7 linked regions of the Homo sapiens genome follow. The protein of the gene in region 6 purifies or fractionates together with the protein of the main gene of each other region. This does not show direct contact. Each region holds a gene or a part of one and is shown on either strand. Other genes may lie near its edges.

The links.
Region 1: the proteins of PRSS50 (region 6) and TOR3A purify together in Homo sapiens (affinity purification with mass spectrometry; 2 studies listed by BioGRID and IntAct, with this or other methods). This does not show direct contact.
Region 2: the proteins of PRSS50 (region 6) and EARS2 purify together in Homo sapiens (affinity purification with mass spectrometry; one large-scale study listed by BioGRID and IntAct). This does not show direct contact.
Region 3: the proteins of PRSS50 (region 6) and FASTKD1 purify together in Homo sapiens (affinity purification with mass spectrometry; one large-scale study listed by BioGRID and IntAct). This does not show direct contact.
Region 4: the proteins of PRSS50 (region 6) and PIGT purify together in Homo sapiens (affinity purification with mass spectrometry; 2 studies listed by BioGRID and IntAct, with this or other methods). This does not show direct contact.
Region 5: the proteins of PRSS50 (region 6) and DNAJA3 purify together in Homo sapiens (affinity purification with mass spectrometry; one large-scale study listed by BioGRID and IntAct). This does not show direct contact.
Region 7: the proteins of PRSS50 (region 6) and FKBP14 purify together in Homo sapiens (affinity purification with mass spectrometry; 3 studies listed by BioGRID and IntAct, with this or other methods). This does not show direct contact.

What each region holds. Positions count from the first base shown.
Region 1 is NC_000001.11:179,094,283-179,096,496, forward strand, and holds the end of TOR3A (torsin-3A precursor), read left to right. Parts: intron 1-685; coding exon 686-936; 3' UTR 937-1,714; downstream 1,715-2,214.
Region 2 is NC_000016.10:23,523,303-23,526,350, reverse strand, and holds part of EARS2 (nondiscriminating glutamyl-tRNA synthetase EARS2, mitochondrial), read left to right. Parts: intron 1-971; coding exon 972-1,107; coding exon of another isoform or gene 1,108-1,224; exon of another isoform or gene 1,225-1,331; intron 1,332-1,896; coding exon 1,897-1,980; 3' UTR 1,981-3,048. UniProt on the Homo sapiens protein: Non-discriminating glutamyl-tRNA synthetase that catalyzes aminoacylation of both mitochondrial tRNA(Glu) and tRNA(Gln) and participates in RNA aminoacylation for mitochondrial protein translation.
Region 3 is NC_000002.12:169,567,366-169,570,865, reverse strand, and holds part of FASTKD1 (FAST kinase domain-containing protein 1, mitochondrial), read left to right. Parts: intron 1-1,613; coding exon 1,614-1,682; intron 1,683-3,500. UniProt on the Homo sapiens protein: Involved in the down-regulation of mitochondrial MT-ND3 mRNA levels which leads to decreased respiratory complex I abundance and activity.
Region 4 is NC_000020.11:45,419,141-45,422,640, forward strand, and holds part of PIGT (GPI-anchor transamidase component PIGT isoform 1 precursor), read left to right. Parts: intron 1-154; coding exon 155-255; intron 256-332; exon of another isoform or gene 333-363; coding exon 364-450; intron 451-995; coding exon 996-1,083; intron 1,084-1,191; coding exon 1,192-1,289; intron 1,290-1,387; coding exon 1,388-1,553; intron 1,554-2,242; coding exon 2,243-2,443; intron 2,444-3,500. UniProt on the Homo sapiens protein: Component of the glycosylphosphatidylinositol-anchor (GPI-anchor) transamidase (GPI-T) complex that catalyzes the formation of the linkage between a proprotein and a GPI-anchor and participates in GPI anchored protein biosynthesis.
Region 5 is NC_000016.10:4,435,868-4,439,367, forward strand, and holds part of DNAJA3 (dnaJ homolog subfamily A member 3, mitochondrial), read left to right. Parts: intron 1-1,534; coding exon 1,535-1,618; intron 1,619-3,500. UniProt on the Homo sapiens protein: Modulates apoptotic signal transduction or effector structures within the mitochondrial matrix. Affect cytochrome C release from the mitochondria and caspase 3 activation, but not caspase 8 activation.
Region 6 is NC_000003.12:46,715,070-46,719,131, reverse strand, and holds the start of PRSS50 (probable threonine protease PRSS50 precursor), read left to right. Parts: upstream 1-1,262; 5' UTR 1,263-1,307; coding exon 1,308-1,413; intron 1,414-1,494; coding exon 1,495-1,695; intron 1,696-3,434; coding exon 3,435-3,597; intron 3,598-4,062. UniProt on the Homo sapiens protein: May be involved in proteolysis through its threonine endopeptidase activity.
Region 7 is NC_000007.14:30,020,203-30,023,702, reverse strand, and holds part of FKBP14 (peptidyl-prolyl cis-trans isomerase FKBP14 precursor), read left to right. Parts: intron 1-886; coding exon 887-1,038; intron 1,039-3,398; exon of another isoform or gene 3,399-3,490; intron 3,491-3,500. UniProt on the Homo sapiens protein: PPIase which accelerates the folding of proteins during protein synthesis. Has a preference for substrates containing 4-hydroxylproline modifications, including type III collagen. May also target type VI and type X collagens.

The sequences.
Region 1 (2,214 bases), on a different chromosome or scaffold from region 6:
GAATGTGTGTTTATGAAGCAGACAGGGTACTTGGGAACACAGAGGGCAGACTATAATCATCTCACATTGTCAACCCTGGGTGGGCACAAGAAAAGTGGTAAGAAAGCCTGAGCTCCTTTTCTGGGAATGCTTGGAAATAGTAGTTTGCACTGGCCCCAAGAACAGGCGCAGTGGTCTCTGAAGCCTGAGACTCTGAGTCTCACTGCAAGACTTTACCTAAAGGAGACACAGCTGTAGAGTTCTTGACATACGCTGCAGACAGCACTCCTGGAGTTGAGAGATGAGATCCAACCTCACCCAGCCCCTTCAGTCGGGGCCAGGTGTGGTGGCTCACACCTGTAATCCCAACACTTTGGGAGGCTGAGGCGGGCGGATCACTTGAGTCCAGGAGATCTAGACCAGTCTGGCCAACATAGTGAAACCCCGTCTCTAGAAAAAAAACAAAAATTAGCCAGGTGTGGTGCTGTACGCCTGTGGTCCCAGTTACTCACAGGCTGAGATGGGAGGATCCCTTGAACCTAGGAGGTGGAGGCTGCAAGGAGCCCAGATCTCACCACTGCACTCCAGCCTGGTTGACAGAGCAAGCCCCTGTTTCAAAGAAACCAACAGCAACCCCCACCCCCGCTAAATTCCAGCTAGGTTCAGTCCTAGGTCAGACTCCATGTAACTTTGGTCTTGCTTTCAGACAATGGCTTTGGCCACAGCCGTCTTGTGAAGGAAAACCTGATTGACTACTTCATCCCCTTCCTGCCTTTGGAGTACCGTCACGTGAGGCTGTGTGCACGGGATGCCTTCCTGAGCCAGGAGCTCCTGTATAAAGAAGAGACACTGGATGAAATAGCCCAGATGATGGTGTATGTCCCCAAGGAGGAACAACTCTTTTCTTCCCAGGGCTGCAAGTCTATTTCCCAGAGGATTAACTACTTCCTGTCATGAAGGCTAGAGGAAGACTTCCTGGAACTGCCTTTCTTCCACTAACAGGACCCTGGGACCTGTAGGAGCACCCCGTTTGGGACTGTGAGGTGTTTGAGGGTGTGGACTGGCATCCAGCAGCCACTAACAAACACACAACTGGTGTGTAAAAGGCAGGCCTTACATTAGAAGCCAAGCCAATCCTTTTTCTTTTTTTTGGAGGTCCCACCGAGATAGATAGGAACTTGGATTGCTGAATTCAAAAACAGAGCCCATTCTTAAGATCACTTGGTGCCTTAAAGACACGCATTCCAAAGTGGAATGTGGTTGAAGAAAGTGGGCCAGGTGGTTGAAGAAAGCCATGTGGGAGCTCAGCAAATCCCAAGGGCTTATTATGACACTCCAGATGGTCTCCTTAGCATCTCAGCTCTTCTGCAAGGAAGAGCTTGGGTGTTAGGCCTCAGAGGCTGTAGGGTCCTTGGGTTACAGAGCCGGGGAGAACGAAGTTCTGTGACCCAGGGGTGGAGAATACACTCTAGGTTTGCAGGCTGGTGGGCTTTCAAATTGGTACTTCCAGAGGAAAGCCAAGCTGCTTCTGTTGTGAGCGAATCAGCCAAGAGCCTGAGGCTGAAGGGAAAAGTACACAGAGGAAGATATTTTACAAACCAGGTCAGTGTAGGCCAAGACTTATGGTCTACAGATTTTGGCGGGGGAGGGGGGACCTTTTCAAAGACAATAGGGGGTCTTGACATGTTTGTTGTATGTAAAGATGATAAGATTAAAATTTTTGATTTTCCTAAAATCCTTGGCGTACTTTCTGTTTCTGAGACCTAGCAAAATTTCAAACAAACACTGGGTAATCCTGATAAGGCCTGGCAGAGACAGGGCAGATGCTGGCACACACGGAGCTGGCAGGGTATGTGACTGGTCTGCCTGTCTAGTCTGTTTGCTTTGGGACCACATCAGTGAAGCCAAGTCATGCCAACCTCCTACTGAAGAGACTCCCATAGCACATTGCTCTTATATATGAAAATGTTCACTCCTGTACTCTCAGCTATAAAAAGAAAAGCAGTCATTCTGAGGATTAAATGGCACCGTGTAGACATGTAGCACTGTGCCTAGACACAGTGTTCATTATGTGCCTTTCCCCTTTTCTTGGTTCTTCTCCCATGCCTCTGGAATAACACAGGTCTTTTTTCCCTATGTTTTTTATATATTAATTATACACACATATAGAGTCAGGGTGTCACTATGTTGCCCAGGCTGGTCTGGAACTCCTGGGCTCAAGCTATCTTCCTGCCT
Region 2 (3,048 bases), on a different chromosome or scaffold from region 6:
CACCTGAGGTCAGGTGTTTGAGACCGGCCTGATCAACATGGTAAAACCCTGTCTCTACTAAAAATACAAAATTAGCTGGGCGTGGTGGCACGTGCCTGTAATCCCAGCTACTCAGGAGGCTAAGGCAGGAGAATCGCTTGAACCTGGAACGTGGAGGTTGCAGTGAGCTGAGATCGTGCCATTGCACTCCAGCCTGGGCAACAGAGCGAGACTCCATCTCCAAAAAAAAAAAAAAAAAAAGGTAATATTTCTGAGTATTTATCATGTGTTCAGGCACTTGGTGCTTTATAAGTTTTAACTCTCTACGATAGCCTTGTGCAGGACAGATACTATTATTTTTTTTTTTTTATTTTGAAACAAAGTCTCGCTCTGTCACCCAGGCTGGAGTGCAATGGTGCAATCTCGGCTCACTGCAACCTCCTCCTCCCAGGTTCAAGCAATTCTTCTGCCTCAGCCTCCTGAGTAGCTGGGACTACAGGCACCCGCCACCATCCCTGGCTAATATTTTTGTATTTTTAGTAGAGATGGGGTTTTACCATGTTGGCCAGGTTGGTCTCGAACACCTGACCTCAAGTGATCTGCCTGCCTTGGCCTCCCAAAGTGCTGGGATTACAGGTGTGAGCCACTGCGCCAGCCTCAGATACTATTATTCTCCCCACTTTACAAATGAGAAAACTGAGGCATAAAGATTGCATGACACAGAGGTAGCAATGAGTAAAGCCTCTTATGGCACCTCTTACCTCCCTGCATTGTGACCACTGGCTTCTCTGTGTGTGGTCCCTTGGTGGTTTTTCCTTCCCGACCTGGATAAGGGAGAAAGTGGTCAATATCTTCCTCACCTCCCTCAAAACAGGCTTGAACATTGGTTGTGCTGCTCGTACTGTAGCTGATCAATAACCTTCTGAAGCCCTTCCTCCCACCCACTTGCCATTGGCCCATGCAGGCCCTGTAAACTGGCCCTCTTCTTCTAGGCTTCTAGAAAGATCTAGTATGAGCTTAACTCAGGATATGCTGAATGGAGAACTGAAGAAGCTATCAGAAGGTCTGGAAGGCACCAAGTACAGTAATGTGATGAAACTCCTTCGGATGGCCCTCAGTGGACAGCAGGTGAGGCAGGGACACGGGTTGGATTGTTCCCTGGAGCCCCTCATTGATCCTTTGAACTTACATTTCCTGGCAGGCACTGAGCTCAATATTGAGTATACAAAGGTGAATGAAACATGATCACTCCCCTCATTTAGTCAATCAACAGACACTATTGAGTACCTACTATGTGCAAGCATTGTGTTAGGTACAGTGAATACAATATAGAATTAAACACACATACATAATCTCTGCCTCCATGGGGTTTGCAGTTTATTGGGGATAACAGACCTAGCAACAGCTTACTTAATATGGGAAAATCAGGCCAGGCACGGTGGCTCACACCTGTATTCCCAGCACTTTGGGAGGCCTAGGCAGGTGGATCACCTGAGGTCAGGAGTTTGAGACCAGCCTGGGCAACATGGTGAAACCTTGTCTCTACTAAAAATACAAAAATTAGCTGGGGGTGGTGGTGCGCCTGTAATCCCAGCTACTTGGGAGGGTGAGGCACGAGAATTGCCTGAACCTGGGAGGCAGAGGTTGCAGTGAGCCAAGATCGCACCGTTGTATTCCAGCCTGGGTGATAGAGTGAGACTCTATCTCAAAAAAAAAAAAAAAAAAGGGCGGTGGTTGGAGGAGAAACAGGCTCTTAGGACCCATCCTTTTCCAGGGAAATAACACAAGCACTGATCCTCAGAACACAGGCAGCAGTGTGGGGGCTGGCCTGGGAATAATTTCTGCAGACTAAGGCTGAGCTTCAGTTCTTTAGGCTGTTTAAGGTAGTAAGGCAATATTTGCTCTTTTTGTTCTTAGCAAGGACCTCCTGTAGCTGAGATGATGTTGGCCTTGGGACCAAAGGAAGTACGGGAACGGATCCAGAAGGTGGTTTCCAGCTAGGGAGAGGATGTTTCGGGCAGTGGAGATCGCCCTAAGAACCTGTGAGCTTAGAAACAGCTTTCAGAGACCAGAAGGAGGCCTGGGGCCCGTCGGGAAGTTTGCTGAAGGAACTAAGAGTGGAAACAATCTCTGACTGCACACAAGTGCATTTGTGATCCACCACAGGCACGTTTTTGTCAATTGGCTGGGGAAGCCCAACCCATCTAACCTCCTGGACTCTGGAAAGGCATTCTCCGGGTCTGGTTTCTCACACATTACACAGCAGAGGTTTGGAGTTAGTTCACAGAAAAGTTAACATCCCGGAACAGTGCAGAAGGCTTGGGTTTCAGTTTGCTAGGGCCCCCATAACAAAATGCCACAGAACCAGGTGGTTTAAACAACAGAGATTTATTTTCTCACATTTGGAGGCTAGAAGTTCAAGATCAAGGTGTCAGCAGGCCTGGTTTTTCCTAGAGGCCTCTTTTGTTGGCTTGCAGACAGCTGTCTTCTCACTGTGTCCTTGTGCGGTCTTCCCTCCATGCACACACATCTCTAAGTTTCATTATGTGCCCAACGTTCCTCTTCTAAGAACACCAGTTGGACTGGATTTTAACTTTAACCAGCCTCATTTAAGTTAATCACCTCTTTAAATGCTCAATCTCCAAGTACAGTCTCATTCTGAGGTTCCAGGGGTTTCTCAACGTAAGAATTTAGGGGGACAGAATTCAGCCCGTAGCAGCTGGGCAGCAGGACTCATGGGTCCCAGTTCTCAGGCCCCAAGGACTCAGAGCAGCAAAGGATACGTGACACAAGCAGGGCTGAACTGGACACCAGACTTTCTTTGGGGTTGTAAAAGGAGAAGTGTGACTCCACTGCCAAGGGTAAGCACTCTTGTCTTATGCTACCCTTTATTCTTGAACCTTGGGGCAGCCTGTGTCTCCCTTCCCTAAACGTCATCTGTTCCGTTTTTCCAGTCTTCCAGACCTGGTCCTTGGACTGGAGACCTTCACCCTTCCTATTTTGTGGCTTTCTCTTCAAATCCACCTCGTCCTTCCTCCATGACTTATAAGTCATCATCTCTGCTGGTTT
Region 3 (3,500 bases), on a different chromosome or scaffold from region 6:
TGCCTCTACTAAAAATACAAAAATTAGCTGGGCGTGATGGCAGGCACCTGGAATCCCAGCTACTCTGGAGGCTGAGGCAGGAGAATCTCTTGAATTCACGTGGTAGAGGTTGCAGTGAGCACAGATCATGCTACTCTACTCCATTCTGGGCGACAGAGTGAGACGCTGTCTCCAAAAAAAAAAAAAAAAAGTAATGCCTAATAACAATCAGCAATTAGTAAATTTTGTCTGTGATAACTTGTTTGCAATCTCGTTATTGTAATTAAATGGACGGCACATATGTTTTCTAGGGGGTATTGGTACAATAGGTTGTTTCTCAATAATAGCCCTTAAAAGGAAAAAGAAATAAAATGATTTTGTAGATTCATTTATATTTGATAACAATGTTATACAAATTATGTGGATGGTTGATAGGTATTACGTAAAGAAGGGCTTCCTTGGTGTCAGTGGAAAAACTCAGAGATAAATGTTAAGAAATATTACATTCCAGTTTTGGGATTTGTGAAGAAAAAATGAAGAGAGCAAAGAAAAAAGGAAAAAAAATAAAAAGAAATATGTTGTTTGCAAGGAAATCCAGCCTTCAAAAGAACTGGGTTCCCTGAATGAAGGCTTCAGCAGTTGTACAAGGGGGAAAAAACAAAAAAGTTACACCTAATCTGTTTATTAGTCTCACTGATGAAAAAGAGCAGTTTTCTCACATGATGACCCAACCTTCAGGGGTTATTTAAATGGCTGTAAATATCAGCATTACGTAAGTTAGAGACGTGTAAGTTGTTTTTGTAAGAGAATTGGCATTTATAGGAAAGGGGCTTGGGGCTTATATTGGGGATTGATGTTAAACTGAAAAAGGATGATTCCATGTTTTTTGGTGGCCTTTCTCAGGTTACAAAGTTGTTTTCTCTGAGGTACTTGAAGGGGATGCTTAAAGTTTTGTGAATAAGGTGATTGGTGACTATTAGCTTTTTAATTTTTTTACAAACATTTTCTTATAAAAATATTTTATTTATTTATTTATGAGGTGGAGTCTCACTCTGTCACCGAGGCTGGAGTGCAGTGGTGCAGTCTCGGCTCTCTGCAACCTCTACCTCCAGGGTTCAAGCAATTTTCCTGCCGTAGCCTCCTGAGTAGCTGGGATTAAAGGCACATGCCACCACGCCCAGCTAATTTTTGTATTTTTAGTAGAGACGGGGTTTCACCATGTTGCCCAGGCTGGTCTCGAACTCCTGACCTTAAGTGATCCGCCCGCCTCAGCCTGCTAAAGTGCTGGGATTACAGGTGTGAGCCACCATGCCTGATCAAAAGTATTTAAATCAGAACAAAGACATATTATATGTACTTTTAACATAAATATATTGTTGAACATTATCATTGGTCAGTAGCATGGGTATTGAAATAAGCAGATAAAAGGGTGAGAGGGCATGGGATAAAGTATAGATGTTTATTAGGCTGTACCAAAAAATCAGAATATTGAAATAAGAGTGGACCAGAAATAAGGACTGCCTGTATAAGAGGAAAATAACTTGAGTTTCACTTTTGCATTATCATTCGTATTGCATATGTTTTTAATGATTTTAAAATGATTATGTATGGAGGATTCTTTCTTTTTTATTAAGGTTTGCTGGTGAGGCCCATGACCCGCTAGTTGAAGCACTAGTTACAGAAGCATGGAGAAGGCTAGAAAGGCAAGTACCCTGGGTTCATCTTGAAGATCAGGGTTATTCTTTTCAGGGTTAACAGAGTGAAATCTTGAAGGGAAAGAACAGGGAACTGATGCCTGTCAAGCTTCACTGAAAAAAATGTATTTAAACTCAGTTTAGTTTTAAAGTTTTTGATTGTGTAATGTGTTGTTGTTTTTTTTTTTTTTTTTGAGATGGAGTCTCACTCTGTCGCCCAGGCTGGAGTGCAGTGGCGTGGTCTCAGCTCACTGCAACCTCTGCCTCCTGGGTTCAAGCAATTCTCTGCCTCAGCCTCCTAAGTAGCTGGGATTATAGGCACCCACCATGACTCAGGGCTAATTGTTTGTATTTTTAGTAGAGATGGGGTTTCACCATCTTGGCCAGGCTGGTCTTGAACTCCTGACCTCGTGATCCACCTGCCTCAGCCTCCCAGAGTACTGGGATTATAGGCGTGAGCCACCGCTCCCAGCCATGTCTTTTCTTTTTTCTTTTCTTTTCTTTCTTTCTTTTTCTTCTCTCTTTTTCTGTCTCTCTTTTTTTTTTTTTTTTTTTTTTTTTTTTAATGGACAGGGTCTTGACATGTTGCCCAGGCTGGTTTTGAACTCTTGGGCTCAAGCAATACTTCCTCCTTGGCCTCACAAAGTGCTGGGTTTATATGCATGAGCCACCATGCCTGGCTGTGTATTCTTTAAGAGAGAAAAGAAAGTATTTCATATTTTTCCTCTTTAAGAGTGGGGAATAGTATACTTTTCCACACATGTAATTAGTTGAAATATAAATAAGATAGAGTCACAGCTATTCATGAACTAGCCTTTTTGAATCTTCTTTTCTAGAAGAATACTTCAGAAAGGAAAGATTCTTGATTAATTGGCTATCAATAAAAACCTAGAAGTGCAGGAGCCAGGAAAGGAGAAAAAAAGAGACCCTAGTTTATTAGAGAGGAAGGCCATTTAACACTGTTTAGGAGCATCTGTAGCTACTTGTCTGTTACTCCATTTTTAAGGAGAGGCAATGACCAGAGCTTATAGGTGACTTAGAAGCTTTTTAAAGAAAGTGAGTTTCAGGTCCACTGCTGTGGACAGTATTAATTCAGATATATTTCCTATATTGTACACAGCTCTATTTTCAGCATGTTGCCTTACTTGATAATCATTCAGAAAAATGGGAAATCTTGTGAGTACAGAGAAATTTATTCTCTAATTATATATCAGAAGCTCTTTATTTATAAAAGGGCTGAGATAATAGCAGACTCATTTTGGGAAATCTTCATCTATTTCTGAAAACTTTGAATTTTTTAATCTAGGAACTCTGGATGATTGTAGTCTATTGTTAGTGGAATAAGGCAAATGTTAGGGAGGAAAGAAAAAAATCAGGGTGAGGAAGAGATAGGAGGATATTAAAAACTACAGAGCAACTCTCCCTCTAAATCAAATGGAAACCAGACAGGAAAGTCTTGACTAAGATGAAGGAGAAACAACAGGCTATTTATTTGTAGACAGAGAGGAGCGACCATTCTGATTTTTAAAATATTTTTAACATATTGCCTCTTAAAGCTTAAACTATAATAAATACTTATATATTGGTAAACTCTGTAGGCCTTTATTACATGGGCTGGATTAAATTAAGGGACAGAACAGTTCTCCAGATTTAGAAATTCTGTATTAATCTACTAAGTTGTGATTTTAAGTTAATCTTATTAGCTAAACCCATCTGTCTTCTTTTATACTCTCTACCTATAAGTATATTGAGGGTAAGCAGAGTAATCTTATTCCTTTTGCTAACAGTACAAATTATCTATTTACTGGATCTTTGGGGTTAGATTTG
Region 4 (3,500 bases), on a different chromosome or scaffold from region 6:
AGGAGAGAAGGGAGTCCTACTCCCAGTTGGGACTGTCCAGACTGTGGTGCTAGAGGTGGTGTGGGGAGCAGGAGGGTCATTCCCATCTCTGGAATGTGGATCCCGAGGGGTCAGAGCCCAAGGCCCACCCCAGACAGACCTCTGTCTCCCTCAGACACTGACCACTACTTTCTGCGCTATGCTGTGCTGCCGCGGGAGGTGGTCTGCACCGAAAACCTCACCCCCTGGAAGAAGCTCTTGCCCTGTAGTTCCAAGGTGAGGCCGCAGAGCCTGGCAGCCGGGGGCGGGGGGTGTATAGAGAACCTGCGCCCCATGCCAAGTGCTCCATACAGGGCTTCTCTTATCTCTTTCCATCTCCTCCAGGCAGGCCTCTCTGTGCTGCTGAAGGCAGATCGCTTGTTCCACACCAGCTACCACTCCCAGGCAGTGCATATCCGCCCTGTTTGCAGAGTAAGTCATGGGGAGTAGAGGAAGCTGCCATCCAGGGGCTCAGAGAAGGTACATGTAAAGCATGTGGTCAGTGTCTGGCTCAGGCTGAGTGAGTACTGAGTGGTAGATGTGATGACGGTTATTCAGGGCATTGGCCAAGCACCAAGAAAACAGTGGTTGCCTAGCAAGCACTGAATAAATATTTGTCATGGAAAATAGTGGTTCAGAACAATAGCTATGCGGGTGCAATTGCTAGCTCAGTCACTTGCCAGCTGGCGTAACCTTGGGTGAATCATTTCATTCCCCTGAGCTTGGTTTCCCACCCTGCCACATGACATTGATAGTAGAATCCACTCCTAGGGTTGTTGTGATAGTTTATCAAACTGATGCACATACAGCTGTCAGCACGGGGTCTGGCACGAGGTCAAGTGCTCAGGAGTGGGTGGTAGCAAATCGATGGATGTGAAGATACATAGATGAGGGATTGAGTCTGAGTAGGAGTCTTTTTGGGGGCTGTGTGGTGAGAGTGATACCCCCTCACTGCTGCCATCTGGCCCTTGTGATAGAATGCACGCTGTACTAGCATCTCCTGGGAGCTGAGGCAGACCCTGTCAGTTGTATTTGATGCCTTCATCACGGGGCAGGGAAAGAAAGGTAAGTTACCTTGGCAACTCATCTGTACCCACCCATGCCAGCCCTGCCTTATCTATGTGGACTAGGCCTAGGCCTGGCCCCTGCTCAGCCCTGCGCTCTGTTTCTCAGACTGGTCCCTCTTCCGGATGTTCTCCCGAACCCTCACGGAGCCCTGCCCCCTGGCTTCAGAGAGCCGAGTCTATGTGGACATCACCACCTACAACCAGGTAACAAGGTCTCCAGCCACACACACAAACACACCGCTGGTCCCCAGGACCAGCCTACCCTCTCTGCTTGCTTCTTAGCCCTGCCTTTGTGTCCCCAGGACAACGAGACATTAGAGGTGCACCCACCCCCGACCACTACATATCAGGACGTCATCCTAGGCACTCGGAAGACCTATGCCATCTATGACTTGCTTGACACCGCCATGATCAACAACTCTCGAAACCTCAACATCCAGCTCAAGTGGAAGAGACCCCCAGAGAATGGTGAGTGGGTGGTTGGTTGGACTGCTGGGTTGCAACGGCTACAGAGAAAAGACTCACAATCCCACGTCTTTGCCGTTAGATGATTGGGTTGTATTTAGACCAGATTTCCAGAGTCATATGCTGCTGACTGTAGCTATTCCAAGCTCTACGATTTTGGGTAGGTTCCTAAACTCCCCAAGCTTCAGCATCCACATCTGAAAAATAGAGTATACTTAGCAAATTGGATGAGATGATGTGAAAAATGGAGTTAGTTCATGCATTTGCTTAATCAACCAAATACTTTTGAATTCATACTAAGTGCCAGGCATAGAGTGTTGAATAAGACAGAGGACACTGCACTCAAGAAATATAAGTCTACTAGCTAGGGCAGGTGTCAGTTAATTAATTACAGTTGTGTTCAGTTCCCTTACCAAGGGAAAGAGCAGAATATCCTGAGAGGACCTGGATTGGGTTCGAAGGGGGCACGGTGTTCGTCACGTAAGCACTTCAATACTAGCAACCTATTGTCATCATCGCTTGTTGGCTGGGGAAGACAGGGATGATTCCAGAACCCAGATTGCCCAGTTTCAGTGGCAGGGCTGTTCCCCATCTACTCACTGGCTTGGGACTCTGAACATGGCCTGGGCAGGTGGGGTGGGGAGTGATTCTTACCTTTGGCAGCTGTTAACTGTTGATATTTCTTTACACAGAGGCCCCCCCAGTGCCCTTCCTGCATGCCCAGCGGTACGTGAGTGGCTATGGGCTGCAGAAGGGGGAGCTGAGCACACTGCTGTACAACACCCACCCATACCGGGCCTTCCCGGTGCTGCTGCTGGACACCGTACCCTGGTATCTGCGGCTGTATGTGCACACCCTCACCATCACCTCCAAGGGCAAGGAGAACAAACCAAGTGAGGACCTGAGTCCTGAACCAGGCCCCCAGCCCGCCCTCTCATGTCCTCTCCAGGTCCCCCAAACTCTCATTTCCCAGGGTAGTTCCTGAAGTACCTCTGAAAAGCTACACAGGCATAAAGAGTAAGGAATAGTTTCTCAAAACTGGAACGGGAGCCTCACTGTGCCAGGTTCAGAAGTAATTTATAAAACAGCAATAATTAAAACACATAATACTGGTGATTCTTAATAGGACTGTACAAGGACAGTAGCTTCCTTTTTCACTTACTTTTGCCTCCTTTCTGGAGCATTGGGTTTTGTGATGATTCATAGACTCTTTAAGGTAGGGAAAGGGTTTGGCAACGTTAGGCTTTTGAAGCTAGGAAGATAGCAGAGCTGGAGTAGATGGTGTTTTGCTTCCTTGGGAGGGGTAAAGAGGTACAGTTAATTAAATTTTTTTATTTCTATTTTTATTAAAATTTATTTTTATTTTCTATTATTTTTCTAAGGAGAAGATAATATTAGTGCTTCCTATTAGGTGCCAGGCATAGCACTAAAGCACTTGCCTTTCTTTGGTGTAGGGGGAGACTAGTAGTAAAGTAAAAGACCTCTGAGGAAGAGGTTGTACCATATCCCAAACGGCCAAACTTAAAAACCTTTCAGTACTTTAGTTGATTCCTATATTTTCAAACATACGGTGAATAGTTTCACTTATTTTCAGCACCATTATTTGTACCACCTTCAAAATCTCTATTTCAGACATCCTAACTGCATATTCTATAGGTTTTTCTGTTATTATTCTTTTAAATCTTCTCCTTTGGAAAATTTCAAACCCAAACCCAAACAGAATAGTGTAATAATCCCCTGTACACACCCTGCAGCCTTTTTTTTTTTTTTTTAAGAGACAGACTGTTGCTCTGTCAGCTATGCCGGAGTGCAGTGGCATGATCATGGCTCATTGCAGTCTCAGACTGCTCGGCTCAAGCAATCCTCCTACCTCCGCTTCCCTAGGACTACAGGCATGAACCGCCATGCCTTTAATTTTTTCACAGAGGCAGGGTCTTGTTATGTTGCACA
Region 5 (3,500 bases), on a different chromosome or scaffold from region 6:
CTGGATGTTTAACCTTTTGAGAAGCTGCCAGCCTTTTTCAAAGCAGCTGCACCATTTTACATTCCCACCAGCAGCATATGAGGGCCATGATTTCTCCACATCCCAGTGAACACTTAACTATTATCGTCTGTCTTTTTAATTACGACCCTAGTGAATAAGAAATGCTATCTCGTTAGAGTTTCGATTTGCTTTTTCCCTGATGACTAATGATGGTGAGCATCTTTCTTGTGCATGTTGGCTATTAGTATGTCTTTGGAGAAACGTGTGTTTGGATCCATTGCCCACTTTTAACTGGGTTGTCTTTTTTTTTTAATTGGGTTGTAATGGAATGAACAGAGGCATGGGGACAGGAAGCAGAGATCCTGGCCTGTGAAGAGCGAATGGCCTGTCTCTTCCTGAGCTCAAGAGTCAGGTGCCTGATCCAAGAGTGGGAAAAGATTGAAAAGATGGAGGCTGGGTTGGACTCACATGACAGTTGATTTGAGGCCCTTAGTAAGTCCCAGAGACATAATTTAAGAGAAAGACTTAATTTAGAGAACCATTCAGATTTTTAGGCACGGAAGTAAAAAGATCAGGTAAAGCTGTAGCAATTACTGTATTTTATTTACCTACAAAAATAATTGAAACAGCAGAGACGTCTATTTATTCAGTCATTTTCTTCCCTTTTTAAAAATTTTTTCTTTTTTCAGACAGAGTCTCGCCGTGTGGCTCAGGCTGGAGTGCAGTGGTGCAGTCTTGGCTCACTGCAACCTCTGTCTCCTGGGCTCAAGCAATTCTCCTGCCTCAGCCTCCCGAGTACCTGTGTTTATAGGCGCGTGTGACCATACCTGGCTAATTTTTGTATTTTTAGTAGAGATGGGGTTTCGCCATGTTGGCCAGGCTGTTCTCAAACTCCTGACCTCTGGTGATCCACCCAGCTCAGCATCTCAAAGTGCTGGGATAACAGGCATGAGCCACTGCGCCCGGCCCCCTTTTTAAAAATTTGTTTTTCTTTTTTGTTCATTTACCTATTCTAAGCCATGCTGGGTGCTAAGGGCAAAGATACATCAGAATCAGTTCCTGCCCTCAAGTTAAGAGATGGATACATTAAAACAGATCATTATTATTATTATTTTGTGGGGCGGACAGAATCTCACTCCGTCACCTAGGCTGGAGTGCAGTGCCTCGATCTCTGCTCACTGCAACCTCCACCTCCCAGGTTCAAGTGATTCTCGTGCTTCAGCCTCCTGAGTAGCTGGGACCACAGGCATGTGCCACCACGCCTGACTAATTTTTTCTATTTTTGGTGGAGAGGGGTTTCGCTGTGTTGCCCAGGCTGGTGTTGAACTCCTGAGCTTAAGTGATCTGCCTGCCTTCACTTCCCAAAGTGTTGGGATTACAGGCGTGAGCCACTGCACCCAGCCGAGAGACAACTTTTATAAAGGGAACATAATTATGACTGGTATTTGGGGTTCTGTTGTATCGGGGGTTTTGTTGTTTCTGGTATTTGGGGTTCACATTGTATCTGGAGTAATTTATCATGTTTTTCCCTTAGCTTGCCAAGAAGTATCACCCTGACACAAATAAGGATGATCCCAAAGCCAAGGAGAAGTTCTCCCAGCTGGCAGAAGCCTATGAGGTAATATGACTTCGGTGCATGCGGTCACTGCTGTTCAGCTATGTGTATGAATCAAAGGTTGCATTGCTACCTGGGACAGCCTGGTGTGTCATACAGTCCAGTGTGAAGGCCATGTCCCTGCGCCAAGTAATCTTGTTAAGAAAAATAAAAAAAAAGAGATTCCAGGCCAAGCATGGTGGCTCACTCCTGTAGTCCTAGCACTTTGGGAAGCTGAGGCAGGAGGATCACTTGACCTCAGGAGTTGGCTTGACCCTAGGAGTTTGAGACCAGCTTGGGCAATGTAGTAAGACCACGTCTCTACAAAAAAAAAAAAAAAAATCACCAGGCGTGGTGGTGGCGCACCTGTAAACCCAGCTACTTGGGAGGCTGAGTCAGGTTCATCACTTGAGGGGCTCAAAGCTGCAGTGACCCATGATGCCATGATTGTGCCATAGAACTATGGTCTGGGCAACAGAAAAAGACCTTCTCTCAAAAAATAAAAAATTAAAAAAAAAACAAAACAACAACATTCTAAGACTAACTTGGAATCTCAATGAAGAACAGGATCCAGGCCAGGCGTGGTGGCTCATGCCTGTAATCCCAACACTTTGGGAGGCCGAGGCAGGTGGATCACCAGGTCAGGAGATCGAGACCATCCCGGCTAACACGGTGAAACCCCGTCTCTACTAAAAATAAAAAAAAATTAGCCGGGCATGGCGGCATGCGCCTGTAGTCCCAGGTGCTGGGGAGGCTGAGGCAGGAGAATGGCGTGAACCCGGGAGGCGGAGCTTGCAGTGAGCTGAGATTGCGCCACTGCACTCCAGCCTGGGCGACAGAGCAAGACCCCGTCTCAAAAAAAAAAAAAAGAACAGGATCCAATAATCTGTACTAATAAAGTTCCCCAGGTAATTTACACTTGTAGCTGGATTTGGGAATTCACAGTTGGATTAATTAATTCAGCCCTTATTCAATGACATCCCCTTCCTCCACCTCAGGGCATCACTGCTTTTTGGGGATAGAGGTTATTGTAAAAGTAGAAGCCCATTATTGTCCTATAAGAATGTCAATGTAATCAGAGGACAAAGCATACATCTCTGAAAACAGCTATTGACCCCACTTCCATAGTTTTCTGAAAGTAGACCTTTTTCCCAGATTTTTTGACAATCTTTTCTTTTTTTTTTTTTTTTTTTGCTTAAGAGACAGGGTCCCTCTATGTTGCCCAGGCTGGTCTTGAACTCCTGAGCTGAAGAGATCCTCCTGCCTCAGCCTCTCAAATTGCTAGGATTATAGGTGCAAGGCACCAGACCTGCCCGACTTTGGCCATCCTAAAGGGGTTCAGTATATATAGGAGCTCATATATCTATAAGAGTAGACAGCCACGTAGAAGAACAGGCTCAACTCAGTAAATCTTTTTTGAGTAAATATCTGTCAACTAGATCTAATGAAAAGTTTATTTACTAGTGTAATTTTAAAATAATATGTTCTTATTAGGTAACTCAAACTAATTGATAACATAACTAAACAGTCTTGGAACCTGCTTCTATGGAAGATAAGATTAATTTTTTTTTTTTTTTCAAGAGTTGAGGTCTCAGCCAGGTGCAGTGGCTTACGTCTATAATCCCTATAATCCCAGCACTTTGGGAGGCCAAGACAGGCAGATCAGGAGGTCAGGAGTTTGAGACCAGCCTGGCCAAGAGACCAGCCTGAGCAATATGGTGAAACCCCATCTCTACTAAAAATACAAAAATTAGCCAGGTGTGGTGGTGGGTGCCTGTAATCCCAGCTATTCAGGAGGCTGAGGCAGGAGAATTGCTTGAACCCGGGAGGCATCAGTGAGCCGAAGATTGCGCCATTGTACTCCAGCCTGGGCAACAGAGCGAGACTCCCAATCAAAAAAAAAAAA
Region 6 (4,062 bases):
GGGGATAGGGCAGAGTGCCTGCCTGGGTAATGAATGTGTGAGATCACTATGCCCTGAGCTCCTGAGCTGCCTTGGTGACCTCCATTAGACTCTACAGCACGAGCAAGGCTACTGGAGGTAGCCAAGCTGAGGACAGAGCCTTGCCCCTGTGTGAGGAATGAGGGGCTGCTCAGACCTGGTGGTCCTCAGGTGCTGAGCAACCAGCCACCCCTATCCCTTAGGGCACCTGAAGGGTGTGATTTACTGTCTTTTCAGAGATTGGAGCATGGATTGGCCAGCTCAAGTGTGTATCCCAAGACCACAAGCCTGGACACATGTTAGAATATCCTGGCTTGATTTAACTTTCACCGTACCTTAGAAAAAAATATTTTCTTGTAGAGATGGGGGTGCTATGTTGCCCAGGCTGGACTCGAACTCCTGGGCTCAAGTGATCCTTCTGCCTCAGTTTCCTGAGTAGCTGAGAGTAGCTGGGACAGGTGCATGCCACAATGCTGGATCACCTTATCTTCTATTAGGCTAGAATTTTCCAACAGCTTTGAGTACCCCACATGACTTTTTAAATGTATTACCCTCCTGTGTCACTGAACCATCAATGTGTTCCCCAAATTGTAACATGCAAAGTGACCTCCTCATCCCACAGTGGCGCAATGGTAAGCACCAGTGTTCCTCTGTGGAGGGACCCTTTGCCTGCACTCTCTTTCCTAAGCAGATGGATCTGTGGGGCAAGGGCATCTGCTGAATGGGGTGGGGGTGGGGTGTAGTTGCTTAGAATGAAGCAGTCTTTCAAAATCATTATTTAAAACACATCTATCTGCTTAATTTCAGTTCCTTGGGCAAAGCCCCACTGGAGGGGCTGGAGGGAAAGTAGGGTCACTTGGAGATCCTGGATGCCAGCCCCTGAGGTTTGGTCTTCATCTCACTGCGGGAGGGGTGACACCATGAGCCAGTCCAGGGCAATGGGCTGCGAGGGTGAGGAGGTCTGAGAATCGGCCGAGATTAAGTTGAGGGACTCCAGGAGACTGCTTGGACCAGCGGAGTGAGGAGAGGGAGGGGCCAAGGAGGGAAGTCAGCCGGGGCGTACCCAGCCCGGGAGGTATAAGGGAGGGCTGTCACTAGGGGCGCCCTTGCGGGTCAGACACCACGAGCGCCGTGGCGGGTGGCCCCTGGGGGGCGCCACGCAGGCGGGGCACTAGGAGCATCCCCACCCAGCTCACCAGAGGCCGCGGCATGCGGCCAACAGGGGGCGCCGTCGTGGGGGCGGCACTGGGAGCGCCTTCCGGAGAGACGCAGTCGGCTGCCACCCCGGGATGGGTCGCTGGTGCCAGACCGTCGCGCGCGGGCAGCGCCCCCGGACGTCTGCCCCCTCCCGCGCCGGTGCCCTGCTGCTGCTGCTTCTGTTGCTGAGGTCTGCAGGTGAGTCCCTCCCGATCCCTACCCCACCCGCCTGACGCGGCCCTCGCCTTCCACCTCTAATCCGCTCGACGTCCTCCGCAGGTTGCTGGGGCGCAGGGGAAGCCCCGGGGGCGCTGTCCACTGCTGATCCCGCCGACCAGAGCGTCCAGTGTGTCCCCAAGGCCACCTGTCCTTCCAGCCGGCCTCGCCTTCTCTGGCAGACCCCGACCACCCAGACACTGCCCTCGACCACCATGGAGACCCAATTCCCAGTTTCTGAAGGCAAAGTCGACCCATACCGCTGTGAGTACCAGGGGTGTAGACTCCGTGGGGCAAGGAGGGTGACAGAGGAGTCTTAAGGACCTTGGCTGGGGCTAGGGGAGCAGAAGGGACGGGGGCGAGCAGGATAGAGGAGCGCCTCCTTCTACAGGTGTTCATTGAGCACTAAACACCTGTGGGTCAGGCCTGGTCCTGTCTGGAGGCCCAGAGCTCTGGGTGTCTTGTCCTCACAGGCCTCCCCTCCTGCTGAGGTAGGGGGCAGGAAAGTCAGAGGGGCCTGGGGCCGGCTGTGTGTTCCCGCCTCGCCTGAGCTGGCTGTGGGGCAGGTGGCCTCTCACCCTGCTCCAGGCCCTGACACCCATCATGCCTCTGACCCAGGCTCCCAGCCAGGGACCTCTGGGATCTCCAGCACAGCTTTCAGGGCCAGGCTGTGTGAGCCTTCCTGTGGTGTCTCCAGGGTGCACACGTAAGACGTTCTCTTGCCCAGTGGCTTTCAGGCATGTTTAACAGACCCACATAAGACTGGGACTCAGCACATAGCATTTAACTGCCACAGAAAGTCACCCAAACAGGACTTCCAGTACCCTGTGCTGTGCATGCCGATGTTTTCTTGCCTATGTTATCCTTTAAAAAGGCTGGTCACGGCCCACTTACATTTACAATCCACGAATCCATTTGGAAAACACTAGGAATGGGACTCCTGAGATGTTGGATATGTGCATCTTCAATCTAGAGAAATTGTTTTCCAAAGCGGCTGCAGCAGTGAGCACTCCCACCAGCCGTGGGTAGGCATTCTGGGTGATAATCCTCACTGACACTCGGTGTCACAGATGTTGCGTTTTTGCCAGGCGGATGGTACAGAGCAGAATCTCATCATGATTGAAATCTGCATTTTCAGGCTGGAGGTAGTGGGTCATGCTTATAATCCCAGCGCTTTTGGAGGCTGAGGCAGTAAGATCACTTGAGGTCAGGAGTTTGAGACCTGCCTGGGCAACATAGTGGGACTCTATCTCTCCAAAAAATTAAAAAATAAAAAAATTAGCTGGGTGTGGTTGTGTGTGCCTGTAGTCCCAGCTATTCAGGAGGCTGAGGTGGGAAGATCATTTGAGCCTAGGAGTTTGAGGTTACAGTGAACAATGATCATACCACTGCACTCCAGCCTGGGTGACAGAGCAAGACCTCATCAGAGGAGGAGGAAAAGGGAAGAGAGAAGAAGAGGAAAGAAGAAGAAGCAGTCTGCATTTCCCTGCAGACTAAGGGCGGAGCAGCTTCTGTGGTCATTGGCTACTGGGATTTTCTCCTTGGACTATGCCCATTTTTCTGTTGGGGCATCCACTTTCCTCTCACTGAGCCACAGAAAGGGGTTCCCAGAGGAGGGAGAGAGCTCTGCCTTGGCTGAAGTAGGGGACATGGTGAGGGTGGAACCAGGTGGAAATGAGAACAAGTTAGTGAAGGATCTGATTGGAGCTGAGAGTGTGTTGGTGACGGCAGAGGGGCCAGTGGTACACTGGGCTGGTCGGCTGGGGATGCTCTAGGGCCCGGGCTGTGGGAACAGGGAGAGAGATATCTGGGCAGTGCTTGGACCCTTCTGAGGCATGAGACTCCAGTCCACATGTGGACAGCATCATTCCATGGTGACAGGTGAAAAGGGAGCACCCCTGGATGGGTGCAGGCCAGTGGCTGGAGAGGCACGAGGTCAGGCTGGGGGAGGGGAGGGACAGGGAAAGATCCATCCCTCATCAAGCTCTCACCTTCCTCCTCAGCCTGTGGCTTTTCCTACGAGCAGGACCCCACCCTCAGGGACCCAGAAGCCGTGGCTCGGCGGTGGCCCTGGATGGTCAGCGTGCGGGCCAATGGCACACACATCTGTGCCGGCACCATCATTGCCTCCCAGTGGGTGCTGACTGTGGCCCACTGCCTGATCTGGTGAGTCAAGGCTGAGGTGGGGTGGGTGGAGAGGTATTTGGAGCTGCTGTGGGCCCAGTCATCCCCTCCCTGCCAGCTGTTCTGGGCCCACAGTCCCAGCCCCAGCCTCATCTGGGCTCCAAGCAGGTGGAGGCTGAGTCCTGAAAATTCCTTCAGAGCTCCAGTCTTTTCAGTGTCCCACCGTTCGCTCCCCTCGTCTGGCCTCTCAGTCCCGTGCAGTCATTCCGCAGATGGGAAATGGAAGCTCAGAAGCCATTTGTCTGGCCTCATGCCTCCTCTCCACGGGAAGAAGCTCCTAGTTCTTTCATTTCACCCCCTTTGCACCCACATCCTTGTTCCTCCCTTCAATCAACCGTCTCTGACACTTCTTTGAGCAAGGCCCTGGCCTGGACACTGGGGGCAGAGGAGGGATGGATCATTCCTTCCAGCTTGTTGGGGGAGACAGAAAGGAAGATAGATGCTCAC
Region 7 (3,500 bases), on a different chromosome or scaffold from region 6:
GCCATGATTGTGAGACCTCCCCAGCCATGTGGAACCGCGAGTCCATTAAACCTCCTTTTCTTTATAAGTTACCCAGTCTTGAATATTTCTTCATAGCAGTATGAAAATGGACTAACACACCAGTCCTTGAGGGGCTACTCTTCCAGACTTTCCTATATAGCCCCACTGTAGACCCCTGAGGAGGAAACTGGGCTAGGGTCTGAGTGGGGATTTAGGGATGAAAAGCAGCCTTTTCTACCCGTCAGAGCCATCAGCAGGCCATAGCTAAGGCAAGTTTGTAGGCAGGATATAAGACACTGTGCTTCTCACTCTTCATATCTGTGTGCATATGGACCCACATATGTTGGCAGTAAATTCTCCTTAGCCTTTCAATCTCCTTCCCAAACTCAGCCATTTTTCCATTATTTTCTCCTTGTTCTGCAACCTAGTGGCCTTCCTGGGACAACATAACTTTGTGATTAAGACCTTGAACTTTGGAGTTAGGTTTAAAGACTGGAACTTAACCTGTGTTTCCTCATCTGTGCAATGGGGTAGTAATGGTACTTATATTATAGACTTATTGTAAGGGTTAAGAGGCAAAAAATAAAATAAAATTTAGAATAATTCCTGGTATACAACAAATGTTCAAATGGTTGTTGTTTTTATTATTTCCTCTGTCTTTCTTAAGCCCAGTCAAGTATGTGAAATTTGCATCAAGAAAGATGGGCAGTGAATTGAATTCCTATAAACTTGACTTGGAGGTGTGTGTGTATGTGTGCAAATACAGAATTGCTGTATTTATAAATTTTTAAACTAATAAACTTAACCACTTACTGGTGGGAAAATGCACTAAAGAAAATTTTTTAGAGTTAATAAGGAGTTCTAATGTGTTTTATTTCTATCATAGTCACAAACATAACAATGGTCAGCCCATTTGGTTTACCCTGGGCATCCTGGAGGCTCTCAAAGGTTGGGACCAGGGCTTGAAAGGAATGTGTGTAGGAGAGAAGAGAAAGCTCATCATTCCTCCTGCTCTGGGCTATGGAAAAGAAGGAAAAGGTAATAGTATTTCTGTATTTTTCTTACTATAGCACTAGAGTTGTTCTCTGGATTAGGAGACAGAAGTTAGAGTCACTATAACTTTTTTTTTTCCCCTGGAAGTTAATAGGGGGTATGTATTCCTTTAGCAACTGTATTATGTCTTGAGTATCAATTGAAATGGCCAGTTTAAGGCCGTAATGTCTAAATGGGCAACTATGCTAACAATAAAAAAAGAACATTGAGGTCTATTAATACTGTTCACAAATATGGTGGGTTGTTTTAATTGTGATAAAATATACATAAAATTTTTCATTTGAACCATTTTTAAGTACACAGTTCAGTGGCATTAAATACATTCATGTTATTGTGGAACCATCACCACTATCCATCTTCAGAATGTTCTCATCTTCCCAAACTGAAACTCACCAATTTACTTTAACAATGCAGAGAGAAAGATCCATTAACGTAAGTGTTTGGATGAGTTGAACATGTGAAATATAGATTATTAAAGTATTGAATGCATTTTAGATGTGGGTTATATATGGGTTGTACTTCATGAATATTAAGTCTCCCACAGCAAACTGGGAGTTCTTTTCATTCCCGTTTTTAAATTTATTTATAAAGTTTTTAACAATGTATTTAAAAAAAATCATAGAGTGACATGAAATGAATTTAATTCTCCCTGTGTCACAAAGCAGAAGCAAGCTGGCTAGCTGGTCCGGACAGCTTTTGTACTAGTTTTTCAGGGCAGACACATATCCTGCTGTTCAAGTGAGAACCCCTGCAACTTTCCAAAGAGCTGCTTTGTGATATATATCAAGAGGTCTGGGCCAGGCATGGTGGCTCACACCTGTAATCCCAGCACTTTGGGAGGCCAAGGAGGGTGGATCACTTGAGGTCAGGAGTTTGAGACCGACGTGGCCAACATGGTGAAACCCTGTCTCTACTAAAAATACAAAATTAGCTGAACGTAGTGGAGTGCACCTATAATCCCAGTTACTTAGGAGGCTGAGGCAGGAGAATTGCTTGAACATGTGAGGCAGAGGTTGCAATGAGCCAAGAACGTGCCACTATACTCCAGCCTGGGGGACAGAGCCAAACTCCATCTCAAAAAAAAAAAAAGAGGTCTGAAGATGTCTATATGCATTTATTCTATAATTCCTTCAAACCTAAGGGAATAATTAGATATCAGGAAAAAAATTTGTGAACAGGGATGTCCATAATTGCATTGTTTCTAAGCAAAAAATTGGAACTGTCGTAAGTGGTATACTGGTAAGAATTTAGCTAAATAAAATATGGCCCAGTTATTTAAAATGGCATTTCCAAAGAGTTTAAAAATTATATCTGAAATGCATGAGATACAGTATTATATATAAAAGTAGAAAATAAACCTATAGTATATATGATAGTAAATATAGGAAAAGGTACATATACATAGAAAGTTAATCATAAGGAAATAAATAAGAATGTTAAAAATGGACTGTGATACTGGGAATCATATTTATTTCTGGTTTTATCATCCAAGTATGTGCTCTACAATGAGCATGTATTACTTACATAATGAAGAAAAAAAAGTTTAAGTAGTCATCAGAACCAGACAGACAACTACTCTGATATAGTATAAATATAGACTTCATAGCATCCTGAAGTCTAAGGTTAACCACTGACAAAAGTGAGGAGTCAGGATTCACAGCCCATTTCCTGAGAAGGAAAATAGATGCCATATGGCAAGCATTATATATTCCAAAATATACAAATCTATACAAATCTTGTTCATAGGATAAGATTAACTAACCAAATTCAATTCTTCTTTTAGTCATAATCCTCTTTAGAGAAGAAAACCAAGTATCTAGAAAATTTTTTCTGATGCTGAGAATGTTTTCATTTTATCTTTATTGTCTCACCTTTAATATTTACATACAGTAGTTCCCCTTTACCTGTGGTTTCACTTTCTACCGTTTTAGTTACCTGTGGTCAACTGCAGTCTGAAAATATTAAGGTATTTTGAGAATGAGAGACAGATTGCATTCATATAACTTTTATTATGATATGTTGTTGTAATTGTTCTATTTTATTATTTTTAATCTGTTACTATGACTATTTTATAAATTAAACTTTATCACAGATATGCATGTATAGGAAAAAGCATTGTATGTATGGGGTTTGGTACTATCCATGGTTTCAGGCATCTAATGGGATTCTTGGGACATATCCCAGTGGGGACTACTGTACGTTGTATTAGTCCATTACTCTTTCTCATACTATATTTAACTCAAGTTTACTTCACAATAAGTAGAGATCTAAATTTGAGTCATTTCCTTCAAACTGAATGCCATGAAACTAATTTTTCTAATCTGTATTTAACACTAATTTTGTAGTCTTTTAGTACATGCTTGCATGCCTCTTTTGGAAAGATACCAGTTTTATCAACAACCTAGCGCATGTCACATCTCTGTCTAGATCTGAAATGGTAAGCTTCA